3 linked regions of the Homo sapiens genome follow. The protein of the gene in region 2 purifies or fractionates together with the protein of the main gene of each other region. This does not show direct contact. Each region holds a gene or a part of one and is shown on either strand. Other genes may lie near its edges.

What was found.
Region 1: the proteins of RPF1 (region 2) and ZNF460 purify together in Homo sapiens (affinity purification with mass spectrometry; 2 studies listed by BioGRID and IntAct, with this or other methods). This does not show direct contact.
Region 3: the proteins of RPF1 (region 2) and ZNF512 purify together in Homo sapiens (affinity purification with mass spectrometry; 2 studies listed by BioGRID and IntAct, with this or other methods). This does not show direct contact.

Annotation. Positions count from the first base shown.
Region 1 is NC_000019.10:57,290,457-57,294,589, forward strand, and holds the end of ZNF460 (zinc finger protein 460), read left to right. Parts: intron 1-242; coding exon 243-1,774; 3' UTR 1,775-3,613; downstream 3,614-4,133. UniProt on the Homo sapiens protein: May be involved in transcriptional regulation.
Region 2 is NC_000001.11:84,474,965-84,482,313, forward strand, and holds the start of RPF1 (ribosome production factor 1), read left to right. Parts: upstream 1-4,301; 5' UTR 4,302-4,317; coding exon 4,318-4,545; intron 4,546-5,991; coding exon 5,992-6,048; intron 6,049-7,349.
Region 3 is NC_000002.12:27,593,014-27,600,061, forward strand, and holds part of ZNF512 (zinc finger protein 512), read left to right. Parts: intron 1-5,053; coding exon 5,054-5,241; intron 5,242-6,569; coding exon 6,570-6,665; intron 6,666-6,956; coding exon 6,957-7,040; intron 7,041-7,048. UniProt on the Homo sapiens protein: May be involved in transcriptional regulation.

The DNA.
Region 1 (4,133 bases), on a different chromosome or scaffold from region 2:
TAGTAGATATGGGGTTTCACCATGTTGGCCAGGCTGGTCTCAAACTCCTGACCTCAAGTGATCCGCCTGCCTTGGCCTCCCAAAGTGCTGGGATTACAGGGATGAGCCACTGTACCCAGCCCATCAAATCATAGCTATTTTCAAATCATCACTATTTTCATCTTATTGTTCTCACCAAAAAGGTGGTTTCATTTCTTCTGTACTATCTTAATAAGTTCTTTTGTGTATTGTGTTCCCTTCAGGTGACAGCACAAAACCTGAGACCGTAGAGCCTATCCCTTCTCATCTGGCCTTGCCTGAGGAAGTCTCACTCCAGGAACAGCTGGCACAGGGAGTCCCAAGATACTCCTATTTGGGGCAGGCCATGGATCAAGATGGGCCATCTGAAATGCAGGAATACTTTTTGAGACCAGGGACAGACCCACAGAGTGAGAAACTCCATGGGAAAATGAGCCTTGAACACGAAGGTTTGGCGACAGCTGATGGTATTTGTTCAATGATGATACAGAACCAAGTCTCACCAGAAGATGCTCTCTATGGATTTGACTCATATGGACCAGTTACAGATTCCTTGATTCATGAAGGGGAAAATTCCTATAAATTCGAGGAAATGTTTAATGAGAATTGCTTCCTTGTTCAGCATGAGCAGATTCTCCCTCGTGTGAAGCCCTATGATTGCCCAGAATGTGGGAAAGCCTTCGGCAAGAGCAAACACCTCCTTCAGCATCACATCATCCATACTGGGGAGAAGCCCTATAAATGCCTGGAGTGTGGGAAAGACTTCAACCGCAGGTCACACCTCACACGGCACCAGCGGACTCACAATGGAGATAAGCCCTTTGTGTGCAGTGAATGTGGAAGGACCTTCAATCGCGGGTCGCACCTTACACGGCACCAGCGGGTTCACAGTGGAGAGAAGCCTTTTGTGTGCAATGAATGTGGAAAGGCCTTTACCTACCGCTCCAATTTTGTCTTGCATAACAAGAGCCACAATGAGAAGAAACCCTTCGCATGCAGCGAATGTGGAAAAGGCTTTTATGAGAGTACAGCCCTCATTCAACACTTCATTATCCATACTGGGGAGAGGCCCTTTAAGTGCCTTGAGTGTGGGAAGGCCTTCAACTGCAGGTCACACCTCAAGCAGCATGAGCGGATTCACACTGGTGAGAAGCCCTTTGTGTGCAGTCAATGTGGAAAGGCCTTCACTCACTATTCCACCTATGTCCTGCATGAAAGAGCCCACACTGGAGAAAAGCCTTTTGAGTGCAAAGAATGTGGGAAAGCCTTTAGCATTCGAAAAGACCTCATTCGACACTTCAACATCCACACTGGAGAGAAGCCCTATGAGTGTTTACAGTGTGGAAAGGCTTTTACCCGCATGTCAGGGCTCACAAGGCACCAGTGGATTCATACTGGAGAGAAGCCGTATGTATGCATCCAATGTGGGAAAGCCTTTTGTCGGACCACAAACCTGATTCGACACTTTAGCATCCACACTGGAGAGAAGCCCTATGAATGCGTGGAGTGCGGGAAGGCCTTCAACCGCAGGTCACCCCTCACAAGGCACCAGCGGATTCACACTGCAGAGAAGTCCCACGAACCCATCCAGAGTGGGAACGTTTCTTGTGAGAGCACAGATCTCATTCAACACTCCATCATCCACACTGAGAGTAGCCCAGTGAGTGCAGTGAATATGGAAACGCCTTCAATTGCCGCTCATTCCTCCTCACTCGACATCAACGGATTCATAGTGGAAGAAACCCTACCATTGTAACAGATGTGGAAAGACTTTTTACGTACACTTCAGTCAACATCCAAGAATTCCTATTAGCGAAATAGTTTTTTAATATAACCACTGAAGAAAATCTGTGGTGAGAGGAAACATCTTACCATCTGGTCATTCATACTGAAGAGAAACTCCATAAGTATCATCTCTGTGGGAAAACCTGTTTTAGATCATCATTTGTCATCTAAACAATTATGTTAGAAATTGACACAGCCAAGAGTCTTATTCTACATCTGATAATTCACCCATGAAAGAGACCCAGTGGTTACTGTGCACTTAGGAAAACCTTCAGCCACATCTTTCTTATTAGTTTACAGTGAAATGTTATCTCAGGGACATTCAAACAAAGGAGGAGGAGTCATAGGGAAGAGAAAGAAATGGAAGCACAGCTTCTTTCAGACTTCCCTGACAAGCCCATGGCAATTTGTCATCCCCTCCTTATTTTATTTGGGAGAGGGAAATGTTTCAGAAACAAAAGGGCCTCATCCCCTTTATTTTCCCTGTGTATACATTCACTGCTGTCCAGTGCTGTAGACAAACGGTTTGTTTGAAAACATTTTGTGAAAGCCTGCTTTGTTCCACAGCATTGTCTCCACTCTTGAGGAGCAGAAGCATATATCTTTATGAGAAAGATGGAGGCTTGAGTTATGAAATACTTTTACATTTAAGGAGATAAAGGATGTACATATGAATGGGCACATTTTACTGCACACTTCAGACGCTTTGACTTTTTTAAAAAAATTGTTTCTCCGTGTGTCTTTAACCACCCAGTACCATACTTTTTTCTTGATCTGGATCTACTTGTCAATTTCTTCTTTATTTTTCTGTAGGATGGAGATGATATTGTAGCTGTTTGTACATAATGTAATCCAGGGAGTCCTAATTCTTCCCTCTGATTGTGGTTTCTCAGCTTTTTTACTGCTCTTTAGAGAGAGTAAATAGTTCAAAATTCACCTCAACAATTTTCTAGAGGTCAATTTGGAACCAAAAATGAAATAAGACATGTAGCTAAAGTAAGTTAAAAGATTATGATAAACTCAGAAAATAAACACAGAGAAGGAATCTCATTTTTCAGTCTTACAGAAGATTGTGTGAAGGCTGACTATACATAAAGTGACTGGAATTTTAACAGGTGAACCTGCATATGTATATGCAGGTAGTTGTCACCATGGATTGAGTCCAGTCGTAGTAATTAATATGTTTAATCAGAATATTTTGGAATTTCTCTTTTGGTATTCTTTTTGTTTCTTTTATTGTTTTTAATTGACAATGTTTATGGGGTTTGGTGTGATATTTCAATACATGTGTGCTAAGAGTAATGATCAAATCAGGGTAATTAGCATATCCATCTCAATCATTTATCATTTCTTTGTGTTTAGAAACATTCACAGTCTGCTTTTCTAGCTATTTGAAAATATAAAATGTATTATTGCCAATTGTACTCATTCTGCAGTGCCACAGAACACTACAACTTATTCAAATGGAATCTTACTTGCTGTAATTTTGTATTTGTTAACCAATCTCTATCTGCCTCTCTGCTGTCCTTCCCAGCCTCTGGTTACCACCATTCTCAACCTTTTATGCTTGCATATGAGTAGAAACATGGAGTATTTCTCTTTCTGTGTCTAGCTTATTTCACTTAATGTCTTTCAAGCTCATTCATGTTGCTGTGAATGACAGGTTTATTTTTCATGGCTGAGTAGTATTCCATTGTGTATATATGCCATGTTTTCTTTCTTCATTCATCTGATAATGGACACTTAGACTGATTTCTTAGCTATTATGAATAGTGCTTCAATAAACATAGGAGTGTAGATCTCTCTTTGACGTATAGATATATTTGTTTTTGCATATATGCCCAGTAGTGGTATAGATCATTACCAGTGGATCATATGGTAGTTGTATTTTTAACTTTTGTTTATTTTTCATTTTTTAAAATGGGGTCTTGCTGTGTTATTCAGGCTGGTCTCAGACTCCTGGGCTCAAGCAGTCCTGCACCTCAGCCTCCTGAGTAGCTGGGACTACAGGCACACACCACCGTGCCTGGCTATAGTTTTAGATTTTTGAGGAACATTCATACTGTTTTCCATATGGCTATACTAATTAGCATTCCTACCAGCCATATATAAGAGTTCCCCCTTTTCCATGTTCTCAGCAGCATTTTTTATTTTTTATCTTTGGTAATAGCCATCCTAACTGAGGTGAAATTATATCTCATTGTGGTTTTGATTTGCATTTCCCTGATTAGTGATGTTGAGCATTTTTTCATATACTTGGCCATTTGTATGTCTCCTTTTGAGGGATGTCTATTCACCTTATTTACCCATTTTAAAATCAGATTTTTTAT
Region 2 (7,349 bases):
GGCTCTCTATTCTGTTTTATCAGTCTATGTGTCTATTTCAAAGGAGAGCTGACATTGTGAGAATCTAATTGACACTATGAATCCCTGTAATAACATTTCAACATACTTCCTGGGTCAGTAAATCCTGAGAAACAAACCTTGTTAGTCATTAAGATAACTTAAATAATACAATAAACAAAAAAAAGAACTCTCAGAACTTCTTAGGATAAGTGGTTTAAATGCCAACAATAGCTCTTGGGTACTACTGAAGCATCCACAGATGAGAGGTTAGTTCTATAATAGTTCTGTTATTCCCACCAGTAGAGTGTAGGGCATAATTCAAGTCAGGAAGCTTTAATTTACTTTATGTTTGTCAAAGGCCTATACAACATTGTAAATAAAAAATGTGCCAACAACCAAATTGGTTATTCCTTATTCTGATGCAATGGATTCATATTTTGTGCCTTCGGAATGGGTTTCTGTGATGTAAAAAGCTTAAGTCATACTGTAAAATAATAGGTCAAATTTTCTGAAGAGAATCTTGATTTGGATCACTGAACTCACCTGGTGCCTAAGAGTTGTATTCCAGCGTGCCCCAAATGTCAGAATCAAAACAAATAGGCAAAAATTGTATTAAGTATTAAAAGTAAGTGCTTTATTTTAAAATAACATATACTCTATTGGAAGTGGGCCTGGAAAATAATGGGCAATGAAAGAATTGGTGAGAGAAAGTGAACGGCTGAAATGAACCTCGTAAAGCACTCTACAGTGACCTCTATTCTTGTGTTTCATCTTCTTCTAAAATTGTACACTACTTAATGGCAAACATGATGCCTTTTTCTTCCACACTAGTTAGAACAGTCTCTGACACCAATAAATGGTAAAAATAGCTAGCTAGCATTTATTGAGTGTGTCTGGTTCTTTAATATACATCTTTACTCCTCTCTATACATCCTATGTGGCAGTATAATTAGCCCCAGTTTACAGACAAATTGAGACCCACAGACATTTTATGATTTAACTGAGATTTTATAGCATCTAAGTGATTGAGCCAAGATCTGAACACAACCCACCCTATTCATTTACAGAGTAGCATTTAATACATATTTGTTGAATTAATCAATGTTTTTGTGACTTAAGAATAAGGACTTATTCTGATTATAGAAATCCTTTCATTCAACTCATACAATTGTTATTATAAATACGGCATGAAGAAAAAAAAAGGAAGTCTAAGTTAAGGAGTTAATGATCTCATTTGTATGGTGCTTCTAAATAAATTTAACACTGTTATCTAAATCTATTTCAAAACTATTTTGTATTCTTATGAGAAAAGGAAATATTATATGTAGGGAGATAAAACGTTACAGTTAGAAGAGACTTTCAAAATATTTTCTCAGTCTGTATTTCCAGGATGGAGATTTACTTATTCCCCTTCTTCTTCTTCTCCCCCTCCTCTTGTTCTTTTATTTATTTATTTATTTATTTATTTATTTATTTATTTATTTTTAAGACAGGGTCCTTCTGTCACCCAGGCTGGAGTGCAGTGATGCAATCACAGCTCACTGCAACCTTGAATTCCTGGGCTTAAGCTATTCTCCCACCTTGGCCTATCAAAGTGTTGGGATTACAGGCATGAGCCACAGCCCCAGGACTACTCTTCCTTTTTGACTTGATTACCCCCCTTTAAATAAACTATATATGAAATTTTATGGTTTTGGGGTTTTTTTTGTTTTGTTTTGTTTTTTGAGATGGAGTCTCACTCTGTCACCCAGGCTGGAGTACAATGGCACCATCTCAGCTCACTGCAACCTCCGCCTCCCAGGTTCAAGCAATTCTCCTGTCTCAGCCTCCTGAGTAGTTGGGATTACAGGCAACTGTCACCACATCCAGCGAATTTTTCTATTTTTAGTAGAGATGGGGTTTCACCATGTTGGCCAGGCTGGTCTCGAACTCCTGACCTCAAGTGATCCACCCACCTCAGCCTCCCAAAGTGCTGGGATTACAGGCATGAGCCACCATGTCCAGATAAATTTTATGATTTACTGCAGCCAAATCTATATGTCAGTGATTTTAAAACTCAATGCTATTTTTTTCCTTTTTTTGTATTATATAACTTAAATCCAATTTTGGATCTAAACATAATGATTTTAAGTTTTTTAACAACAATTTTCAATTTGTGATCTAATAGCAGGTTTGGATGGAGCTTGTGTTCTGGAAGACACAGTTTTGATGCTTTTAATATCCTGCTGTTGTTAAATAGAATTTGAATGGGTGAAAAATGAAATGTGGACAAAAACATATTGGATTCTCAAAACACGAAATATAGATATTGGTACATAAAATTTGAAATTAAGGCAGATTCTGGAAAACTGACTCCTAACAGTAAATCAAAAGGGATTTCTTGTTGCTATTTGGAAAGCATTTTCATAAAATTAGAATGAAGAATACAGCAAATTTAACCACTAGGAAAACACTTTCTTCACTTGCCTTCCATGACATTCTACTCTCTTGATTTTCTCTTCTCCTTCTCCTTTGCTGGGTCCTCCTTTTCTTTCCATCTCTTCATGCAGGACTCCTCCAGGGTTCAGTCCTTGATCTTCTTTTTTCAGTTTTCTATCTACACTCATTCTAATGGTTTGAAATACTACCTATGTGCCAATTACTTCCAAAGTTTGATCTTTAGCCCACACCTCTCTGTCCTGCTGCAGAATCATACATCCCAACTGACTAGTTGACACCACCAATCAGATCACTAAAAAGTATCTCAAACTTAACATTTCCAAAACTGAAATCTTGATCTTACCTCTCAGATTTGTTCCATCTGAACTTTCCCGCATTTCACCTGATGGTAACTCCATCCTTTGAATCACTCAGGTCGAAAGTCTTGGAGTCATCCTTGACTCTTTCATGTCCTCCCTTCAGTTCCATCAGTAACTTTACCTTCCAGAGGAATCACTTCTCAACCACCTACACAAGACTTACCCTGGTTCAGGCCACTATCATTTCTTCCCTTCTTCCACACACCCTGCCCCTGCATAGGCTCTTCTCAAAAGAAGATTCTGAATGACGCTTTTACTTTATTTTTATTTATTTTTTTGAGAGGGTCTCACCCTCTCACCCAGGCTGGAATGCAGTGGCACCAACATGGCTCATTGCAACCTAGCCTTCCAGGCTCAATGGATCCTACTGCCTCAGCCTCCTGAGTAGCTGGGACCACAGATGTACACCATGCCCAAACAGATATATATATTTTTTTACTTTTTGTAGACATGGGGTCTCACAGTGTTGCCAAAGCTGGTCTTGAACTCCCAGGCTCAAGCAATCCTCCTGCCTTGGCCTCCCAAAGTGCTAAAATTACAGGCATGGGCCACTGCACCAGCCTGATACTTTTAAGATGTTAAGATCATACCATTCTTTTCCTCAAAATTCTATAAGAGATCTTCATCTCACATAAAATAAAAGCCAAAGTCCTTACAAAACTCTACACCACCTGTCCAATCTCAACACTTCTTGCCTTTCCTGGCTTGCTACTGACTAGGAGCATTGGAGCTGGCTGTTTGCTTTGCCAGGACAGCTTTTCTCCTTGATAACCAGCTTTTCTCAGATTAACAGCTCTTCCCTCAGATAACTAGTTTAGCCCATTACCTCCTTCAAACCTTGGCTCAATGTAACGTTTTCAATGAAGCCTACTCTGAGAATCCTATTTAAAATTGCAACGTACTTTGGGAGTCCAGGGCGGACAGATCACCTGAAATCAAGAGTACAAGACCAGCCTGGCCAACATGGTGAAACTCCATCTCTGCAAAAATACAAAAATTAGCCGGGCATGGTGGCACGTGTTTGTAGTCCCAGCTACTCAGGAGGAGGAGTTTGCAGTGATCGGAGATCGTGCCACTGCACTCCAGCCTGGGCATTAAAGCAAGGCTCCGTCTCAAAAAGATGAATGTCTCTTCATCTTCTTTTATCCTGTTCTATTTTTTTTCCATACCATGTCTTACTCTGTAGCTCACCATAATTTATTTGTATGCTCATTTTAGGTTTCCCTCAAGTAAAACGTAAACTAATCCAGGCACGGTTTTTGTTGTTGTTCCATTATTTTGAGGGCTGGGCACATAGATGCGCAAGGAGTGCCCAAACTCATCATCTCACTCTTTATACAGCTGGGCAAACTGCCTAAAGTTTCCTCAAGCCTCAGCTTTACTATTTTCTTGAATGGCTAAAACTCACAAAACACATCTAGCGTCAAAAACTTTGCGACCCCGGAAGTAAAAGGTTAAGGAAGGGGGTCACAGGAGAAGGCTATTTCCGTTTCCGTACGGAAGCAAAGGAGCCAAGACCATGGCGAAAGCCGGGGATAAGAGCAGCAGCAGCGGGAAGAAAAGTCTAAAACGGAAAGCCGCTGCCGAAGAACTTCAGGAGGCTGCAGGCGCTGGGGATGGGGCGACGGAAAACGGGGTCCAACCCCCGAAAGCGGCTGCCTTTCCGCCAGGCTTTAGCATTTCGGAGATTAAAAACAAACAGCGGCGACACTTAATGTTCACGCGGTGGAAACAGCAGCAGCGGAAGGTACGCGAGAGGCGGGGGCTGCCGGGCGCTTGCGCGTTGTTCCTGACGCTTAGGGCGGTCGCGGGGCGCACATCTGTGGTTGTCTGCTGGTCTCAAAAGTGTTCTCTGTGGCTCCGTGGGAAGGGTGGCGTCGCGGCCCACGTGTTCTGGTCCCCTCGCCCTAGTTTGGAGACTCTAGGTTCAGCCTTTTGCCTGAGCGTCAAGGTGGAAGATTATCTTGATAGGCTCTTTCCTGGGACGCTAGATTCACAAGGAAAGCTGTAAGGCCAGTTGGCTTAGTAGTGAAAACTACGCCCTCCTGGCCCAGAAGGCAAAAGTCTCAGCCCTTTGGTCCGTCTAGGTAGCGTTGGTTAATTTGCAGAATCTGAAATGGAGGCAATACGTAATAAATCCAAAATACTGCTTCTCTGATTCCTGCAGGAGCTCCTTACCGAAATTAGTACTGTAAAGTTTCTGGTAATTGTATTTGTTCTTTTCAGCTTTATCCTTATACGTTTCTGGTAGGTAAACAAACTGAAACGTAAAGAGGTTTAAACGACTTGTCAAGGTCGCAGTGCTCATTTCTGGTTAAATTGCAATTGGAAGAAAACGTTTGCTTATTCTTGCACATCGTAGAAGTTCACACAATATTATTATTATGTGTCTGCCTCCTCTTACTGGCCCTTCTGAGGCCCGGGACTGGTTCTTACTCATGTTCAGTGTCAAGGTGCTGTTTCAATACATACAAGGGGCGTTTAACTCATTCTGGTATGCACGTATTGGGGAGGGATGTCCTGGAAGACTTATTGGAGCTATGATTTCTAATCTGAAACCTGGTGGATTGAGGATCAGTAGGTGCTGGGGAAAAAAGAATATTTTTTATTTTGTCAAGCATTCTATCTAGAAATCTCCAGAAGAATATATAGATTGACAATACAAATACAGATAATCTTAAGCCACCTTGCAAGCTCTTACTAAATTTTAGAAGTATATTTTGATTATAAAATATGTGAATAACTGGTGATGGTTTTATGGAAAACAACCTGAAAACTCAGCTCCCATTCCTATTTTTAGTGCTTTTCAAGAGAAGCAAGCAGCATAACCATGGTCGTCTTTAGGATGCCACCAGTTAGGCAAAACAAAACACAGTGGAAACCATCACATACTTTAATTAATTTGAGGCTTTATGGAAAAAGGTTAAGCTACTCAAATTTTAAATGTTCAAACTTGCCAGTTTAGATTTTTTTAAAGGAGCAGGTCTTTGTTAAAGAAATCTTATTGATTGGCCAGCTCATTTGGCTTACAGTAATTTAGGTAGAAAACTCCACGTCCAGATGCTTATTTCAATAGATTACAAAGACCGCCCAGTTCGAGTATTCATAGCATTAGTAATTTGTAGTTTCAGTATGTGTTTGTGATATAACTGGTTGTTTCTCAGTATTGTTCTCTTTTTTTTTAACCCTTTAGGAAAAGTTGGCAGCTAAGAAAAAACTTAAAAAAGAAAGAGAGGCTCTTGGCGATAAGGTAAATAAAATTTTTAGCTGTTTGCTTTCTATCTTATATTAGGGAATCCCTCCTGATATTTAAGTTGAATTACTTTCTTTTAAAATTTATTATTACGTATTTCAGATGTATGAAGAAATACAAAAGTAATATAATAAACCTCTTTGTATCATTTACCCAGCTTAAGAAATAATGCATTAGCAAAGAATGTTGGAAGCCCCTCGTCTGCTTCATAATTGCTTTTCCCTCCGAAGATAACCACTCGTGAAATTTTTGATTATTTTTTCCATGCACTTCTTTTACCTTTACTGTGTATGTTTGTGTACCTATACGGTAACACAGTGGTGGTATTTTGCATATAACTTTGTGTTTCAGAGGTCAACACCTCTCCCTGACTTTGGGAATGGGGAAGCTCCCCCAGGTTAGGCCTGGAGCTTGGCTCTTGTCATGTGAAGCAAAGATTTTTGGTCAGGCAAGGCTGGGGAAAGGCAGGACAGATCCTCTTCTGGAGTAGGGTGATAAGGGTGTGTTAAGCTTTAGAGCTGGTACAGAGGATATGAACCTGTGAAAAGTGAGAATGGGGAGTGGGAGGACGGTGAGGATTATGGCAGAGAAAAGAGCAGATAATGCATCAAGAAAGAATTTGGCTGTATTTGTGGTACTCATAAGAAGTGAAATCTTTATTGAAAAAATTTTTTAAACTACTAAATGCTCATACATTATTGCATAGCTAAGTTATTTTTATTTTCAGTGTATTTATAGTTACTCCTAGGTTGTGATTTATTTTTGCAAAATTTTGAAAACATTCATGTCTCCGCCTCCCATTCAAGTAAGTTACCAAATAAGGGTGTTTGAGGAAGGGAAAAAAATGTAAAGACAGTATACAAACTAAACACTCTACTATTTCATACATTCTTTGAATAGTATTAGGTTAAACCATAGAAAATTGTCAATAGTAGACTGTTTTGACCTGCAGTATCCTAGTATGTCAAGCATGTTAGTCTCTTTTTAATTCTTTTGTAATCAGTCTATTACAGCAAATTAATGTTATGATCACCATTTGAAAACACCACCATTCTTGTTTTTTGAGATGAAAGATAACTTCTTAAAATTGCCTCCTTTAAAAAATGCTTAAAATGTAATATTTGTTTCATAGAGTAATAAATGCTAGTTTCAGTTTGTATTTTCTTCATAGCTCTGCTAGTGTACATATATTTTGAATTAGTTTTAATGTACTCTTACAATTCTGTGTTCTACTTCTTAGCAATTCATTTACACCATTTCTTGGTCTAAGCTGAGTATGCATGATTGCTGATCCTAAC
Region 3 (7,048 bases), on a different chromosome or scaffold from region 2:
CTCTCTTCACTCCCTCATGTCTCCCCTCCCCTTCCTGGCTGAATAGTTTCGTTAAGATGTGTCTTGGTTGGGTACCGTGGCTCATGCCTGTAATCCCAGCAGTTTGGGAGGCTGAGGTAGGAAGATTGCTTGAGCCCAGGAGTTTGATACCAGCCTGGACAACAAAGTGAGACCCTGTCTCTACACACACACACACACACACACACACACACACACACACACACACACACACAAAAGAATGAGCTGGGTACCGTGGCACACACTTGTGGTCTCAGCTACTCAGGAGGCTGAGGTGGGAGGATTGTTTAAGCCTGGGAGGTGGAGGCTGTGCTTGAGCCACTACACTCCAGCCTGAGTGACAGAGTGAGACCTTGTCTCAAAAAAAAAAAAAAAAAAAGTGCTTTGGACCAGCCTGGGCAACATAGCAAGACCCTGTCTCTATGAAAAAACACAAAAATTTAGTGGGTATGATGGTGTGCACCTGTGGTTCCAGCTACTCGGGTATGGTGAGGTGAGAGGATCACTTGAGCCAGAGAGGTCCAAGCTGCAGTGAGCCATGTGCCACTGCACTCTGGCCTGGAGAACAGAACAAGACTGTGTTTCAAAACAAAACAAAAAGATGTATCTTGGTATGTTTTTCTTTGAGTTATCCTATTTGGTGTTTGTTGAGCTCCTTGAATCTGTAAATTTATATCTGACCAAACGTGGGGGATTTTCCACCTTTTTTTTTTCAAATGTATTTTTCTGCCTTAGTATCTTTCTTTCTTTCTTTTTTTTTTTTTCCATTTAACCCTGAGTTGACACAGCACATGTTTCAGAGAGCACAGGGTTGGGGGTAAGGTTATAGATCAACAGCATCCCAAGGCAGAAGAATTTTTCTTAGTACAGAACAAAATGGAGTCTCCTATGTCTACTTCTTTCTACACAGACACAGTAACAATCTGATCTCTCTTTCTTTTCTCCACATTTCCCCCTTTTCTTTTCGACAAAACCGCCATCATCATCATGGCCCATTCTCAATGGTCACTGTCTCTTCGGAGCTGTTGGGTACACCTGCAGAAAGGCTGTCACTTCACACTTGGAAGATTGCACAGCGGCCAGTCAGAGGTGCTCCTCACTTCCCAGACAGGGTGGCGGCCGGGCAGAGGCGCTCCTCACATCCCAGATGGGGCGGCCAGGCAGAGGCACTCCTCACCTCCCGGACAGGGCGGCCGGGCAGAGGCGCTCCTCACATCCCAGACGGGGTGGTGGCCGGGCAGAGGCACTCCTCAGTTCGCAGACGGGGTGGCAGCCGGGCAGAGGCGCTCCTCACCTCCTAAACGGGGTGGCGGCCGGGCGGAGGCGCTCCTCACCTCCCAGAAGGGGTGGCGGCCGGGCAGAGACGCTCCTCACCTCCCAGACGGGGTGGCGGCTGGGCAGAGACGCTCCTCACCTCCCAGACGGGGTGGCGGCCGGGCAGAGGTGCTCCTCACCTCCCAGACAGGGCGGCCGGGCAGAGGCGCTCCTCACTTCCCAGACAGGGCGGCCGGGCAGAGGCGCTGGTCACATCCCAGATGATGGGCGGCCAGGCAGAGACGCTCCTCACTTCCTAGACGGGGTGGCGGCCGGGCAGAGGCGCTCCTCACTTCCCAGACGGGGCGGCCGGGCAGAGGGTCTCCTCCCATCCCAGATGATGGGCAGCCAGGCAGAGACGCTCCTCACTTCCTAGATGGGGTGGCGGCCGGGCAGAGGCTGTAGTCTTAGCACTTTGGGAGGCCAAGGCAGGCGGCTGGGAGGTGGAGGTTGTAGCGAGCCGAGATCACGCCACTGCACTCCAGCCTGGGCAACATTGAGCATTGAGTGAGCAAGACTCCGTCTGCAATCCCAGCACCTCGGGAGGCGGAGGCGAGCAGATCACTCGAGGTCAGGAGCTGGAGACCAGCCTGGTCAACACGGCGAAACCCCGTCTCCACCAAAAATACAAAAACCAGTCAGGCGTGGCGGCGCGTGCCTGCAATCCCAGGCATTGGGCAGGCCCAGGCAGGAGAATCAGGGGAGCCCGAGGTAGGGAGGTTGTAGCTAGGTGAGATCACGGCAGTATGGTCCAGCCTTGGCAACAGAGGGAGACCGAAGAAGGGAGAGGGAGGAGAGCGGGGAGAGGGAGAGCGAGAGCTGCATTAGTATCTTTCGCCTCTCCCTCTGGGATTACAACTACACTTAAGTTAAAACGTTTGGTATTAGGGTTTTGTTGAATGTTTTTCAATCTTTTTTTCTCTTTGTTCTTCAGACTGGTTTTTTTTCTTTTCTTTTCTTTTTTTTTTTTTTTGAGATGGAGTCTCGCACTGTCGCCCAGGCTGGAGTGCAGTGGTGCGATCTCTGCTCACTGCAGCGGCGCGATCTCTGCTCATTGCAGCCTCCGCCTCCCAGGTTCAAGCGATTCTCCTGCCTCAGCCTGCCGAGTAGCTGAGATTACAGGCACCCACCACCAGGCCTGGCTAATTCTTTTGTATTTTTAGTAGAGACGGGGTTTCACTATGCTGATCAGGCTGGTCTCGAACTCCTGACCTTGTGATCCGCCTGCCTCGGCCTCCCAAAGTGCTGGATTACAGGCGTGAGCCACTGTGCCCGGTGGAGACTGGGTCATTTCTATTGAACGGTCTTCAAGTTCACAGACTCTTTCCTCTGTCATCTCCATTCTATTACTGAACCTATCTGATGAGTTTTTATTTCAGATGTTGTATTTTTCAGTTCTAAGATTTCATTTGGTTCTTTTTTATGGTTTCTTTTTCTGCTGATGATTCCCACCTTTTCCTTCATTTCTTGTGTGTTTTCTTTATAAGAAAGTATTTCTTTTTTGTTGACAGTATTTGATAGTCCCAAAATCTGGATCACCTTGTGGCTGGCATGTTTTGGTCATTTGTTCCTTTGAAAATTGCTCACATTTTCCTGGTTCTTTATGTGTTGCATAATTTTGGAATTTATCCTCATCATTGTGAATACTTTTTGTGTAGATTTTGGGTCCTATTATAATTCTTCTGGGGAATGTTGCCGTTTCTGTTTTAGCAGGCCACCCTGCTTCAGGTTCAGGCCAAAACTTCTGTCTTGCTTTTGGAGGCATTTGTTAAAATCTCGGTTCTGTTCTTTATGTCTTTGCTATGTTGATTTGAGCTGTCCCAAACATGAATAGCTTAGGGGCTGGTCTGAGACTTCTGCAGGTGTTTCCAATCTTATTTCAGTTCTCCAAGCTTTTGCTGCTTTGGTTTGGGTCACATTAGAGTTCAAATCTCATTTTGGTTTTCAAAGTCTTTGCTAGGCTGGTACGTATGGGTATATGCCACACATTCATGGCTAAGGTTAAGTTGTGACTTATTTGGATTCATACATTGAATTAAGAGATTCTTTTTTTTGCCTGTTTTCTCTCTAGCATTCCTCCCACCCCCAGTCCCCCAACTCTGGTCCACAGGGACCTTTTTTCCTGATTTACCTGGTAAGAAAGAAGGGAGTTTCTAGAATTAAAGCTGCCTATGCTGCTCTGCAAGTGGGGTTCATCCTCATTGCAAATTCTTACTTGAGGGAAAAAGACAGAATTGGAAAACTCACCCCATTTGGGGCACTTCTCCCAACTTTGACTCCCCTGCATAATTTACTTGTTTTTGTTTGTTTTACAGAGTCCAGTGAGCAGGAGGGGTGGGCCTTAGTGGGCTTAGCTGCCCCTCCAGAGCCAGGACTTCTGTGTATTAAATTTGTGTTATTGGACCTCATGTGTGGAGAGCCGAAACTCATTCTTCCCTATTTGTAACATACTGACATAACCAGTCTCTGTTATGTTTACTCATCCCCATTTCCATCCCCTCCCTCCTAGAGGAAACTGTATAAACAAGTGTGATGTTTGCACTTAAATATTTATGACTCCTTTAAAAAATAAGCTTTAAAATAAGCTGCTTTATGTGTGGATTTGTTTTTAGCTTGCTGAACTGACATTGTGCTAGAGATACTGTTTTGTTTCTTTTTTCATTCAACAATATACTTTTTAGTTATGGTCGTGTCTCTATGTGTAGAATTAGTTTATTGCTTCTAACAGCAGCACAGTATTCCATAGTAGGCATCTATCACATTTTGCAAGGATGGTCACTGTGTTACTTCCAACTCCCTGATGTCATAAGCAAACCTCTCTATGTGTAATTCTTATTAGCTCTACATCTAAAGTGTTACCTTGAATCTGCCAATTCAAGTTAACTTTTTTCCTTTTGTTTACTCTTTCTCCCATGGGCTGTCTCCATAGAGCAGCCAGAAGGATCTTTCTGAACCATAAATCTAAAGTAGGCCTCACAGGTATTTAGCTGGAAAAGGGAGGTTCTAGGAGTCCATTGACCACTCTTGGAGAACTGCTGCTCTGCTGCATCTTGAGCCACCTAGAAGAATGTCTGATGCTTTGTAGTTACAGAGTAATGTTTTTTAGCTGTCATACTGACTGGTCTTAGATTTTGGAATCTGGATTCAGCTGTATACCAGAAATCTCTGGCCAGGTTAATTCATGCAAGATAGCATCCATCCTTTAGCTGTGGAAGCTAAGTATCATGTTGCCTAAATAAGATAGGGCATCAGGTTTTAGGGAGAATGCTGAGGCAGAAGGAAGATGAGTCAGATTAGGGCCCACAGACTATTCCTTTCCCTTAGAGATACCCTTTAGTTGCCATCCCTCTGTCAGAGAAAGAGAGAGGCTGGGACATACCAGGTTACAAATCCAGGGAGTCTTCTGAAGGGTCATAGAACACCTTTATTGCTTCACCTACTTTCTTTTATTAGATGAATCTAGGAAGGAATGTCTACTTGGGCTGCAAAGTGATCATTTATGTGTACTGCTTACTCTTATTACAATGAAGTGTGATAATAATTGTACATGTTGTGTTAGATCAACTATTGTTATTGTTAGGTGATTACAACTTACATTCTGTTTTTATAGCAGGCTTCTTAGTTTTCTGCAGAGGTAACCAACTTGGTTATAATGTAAAAGAATGTATAGAAATTTTGCTCCAGACCTTCCTTTGTGGTATATATTTTTATGTTGTATTAGTAGCAGGACCCAGTGCTCCATAAAGGATAATAGTTTCCAGTACACTATCCCTCATGATGACTCCTTAAGTGGTTCATCGTCTGCATCTTCGTGTGAACCAGTGAGTGATTTTCCAGCATCTTTCCGAAAATCTACCTACTGGATGAAGATGAGAAGAATCAAGCCAGCTGCTACTTCTCATGTCGAAGGTATCAATATCAGTGTCTTATTCTGAAGACGGGCCACTTCCTAAAGTTATAGTTTGAGATTGTTATAAATACCTCTTAAAAGTATTAAATGGCGGCTGAGCGTGGTGGCTCACGCCTGTAATCCCAGCACTTTGGGAGGTCGAGGCGGGCGGATCACAAGGTCAGGAGATCGAGACCATCCTGGCTAACATGGTGAAACCCCGTCTCTACTAAAAATACAAAAAATTAGCGGGGCCTGGTGGTGGGCGCCTGTAGTCCCAGCTACTCAGGAGGCTGAGGCAGGAGAATGGCATGAACCTGGGAGGCAGAGGTTGCACTGAGCAGAGATCGCACCATTGCACTGTAGCCTGGGCGAAAGAGCGAGACTCCGTCTCAAAAAAAAAAAAAAAAGAGTATGAAATGCCACATATTTGTTTCTCATTAGTGATTTAAAAAAATTTAAGGTGTTAGGCAATTGCATCCTGTCCCATTAGCTTCATGAACTGCTATGTGATAGAGTGAAATTCTGCTAATCTTACTCCTCTAGATTATATTTAGCATTTGATTTTCCTCTTTGTAGTATTTGAATTCCCCTTTTCTTCTTCTTTTTTTTTTGAGACGGAGTTTCACTCTTCTTGCCCAGACTAGAGTGCAATGACTCGAGCTCAGGCTCACCGCACCCTCCTTCTCCTGGGTTCAAGCGATTCTCCTGCCTCAGCTTGTAATGCCAGCTGAGTAGCTGGGATTACAGGCATGTGCCACCACACCTGGCTAATTTTGTATTTTTAGCAGAGACGGGGTTTCTCCATGTTGGTCAGGCTGGTCTTGAACTCCTGACCTCAGGTAATCCGCCCACTTTGGCCAAAGTCTGTAATCTCAAAGTGCTGGGATTACAGATGTGAGTCACCATGGCTGGCCCCCCTTTTCTTCTAGTGTGATCCTCTGTTGATGATTTAGGGGCTGGTGTAAGGATTATTCAGGGGAGAATATTCTGGATCGTCACAATCTCAAGGGTCCTTGGTGGCTAGCCCTCTATCTTGAGCAATTCTTATCCTCTTGTTAGCCTCAAGTCAAGATTAAGCAAAACACATTGCTTGAATGCCCTTATTATTCATAAGGAACAATGGATGATTTGGAATAGATAACAATATAAAAAGAAAGGGAGAGTGGGTCAGTTAATGAGAAGTTACACCAACTTCTCTAAAAATGTCACAGACATTTCTCTGAGGCCTGTGTTCACTGATGATCTTTCCTTTTGATGGTCTTGTGAATGATGTTTTGAAGACAGGCCTAGATGTTCATTTACAAAGTGTGCTGAGTTTTTGTTTTGTTTTTGTATGGTACTTCAGGGTCAGGTGGAGTATCAGCCAAGGGGAAAAGGAAACCCAGGCAGGAAGAAGATGAAGACTATCGAGAATTTCCTCAGAAGAAGCATAAGCTTTATGGTAAGGCAGTAACTTTGCTACTTCTTTTTCCTTGGGTGACTGAGCTTTATTCTTTGAGGGTAAAGGAAAGAGAAGCCTTAGTTTGAGCCCTTCAGTGACCTCTGAGCCCTTTGAATTGTTTGGGAGGGAATGGCCTCCATCCTGCCTCATTATACCCTTTCATTCTGTCCTGACTTAGGCAGTCAGTCGGTTGAGGGACTGGGAAATAGGGTGTTGAAGAGGAGGAGAGGGAAGAGATTTTGGTATTAGCAAGGGTGACATGCTGGGCTTCAAGTTTCTGTCTTATGTCAGGGAGGAAGCAACGGCCTAAAACTCAGCCCAATCCCAAATCCCAGGCCCGTCGTATTCGGAAGGAACCACCAGTTTATGCAGCAGGTATGTTT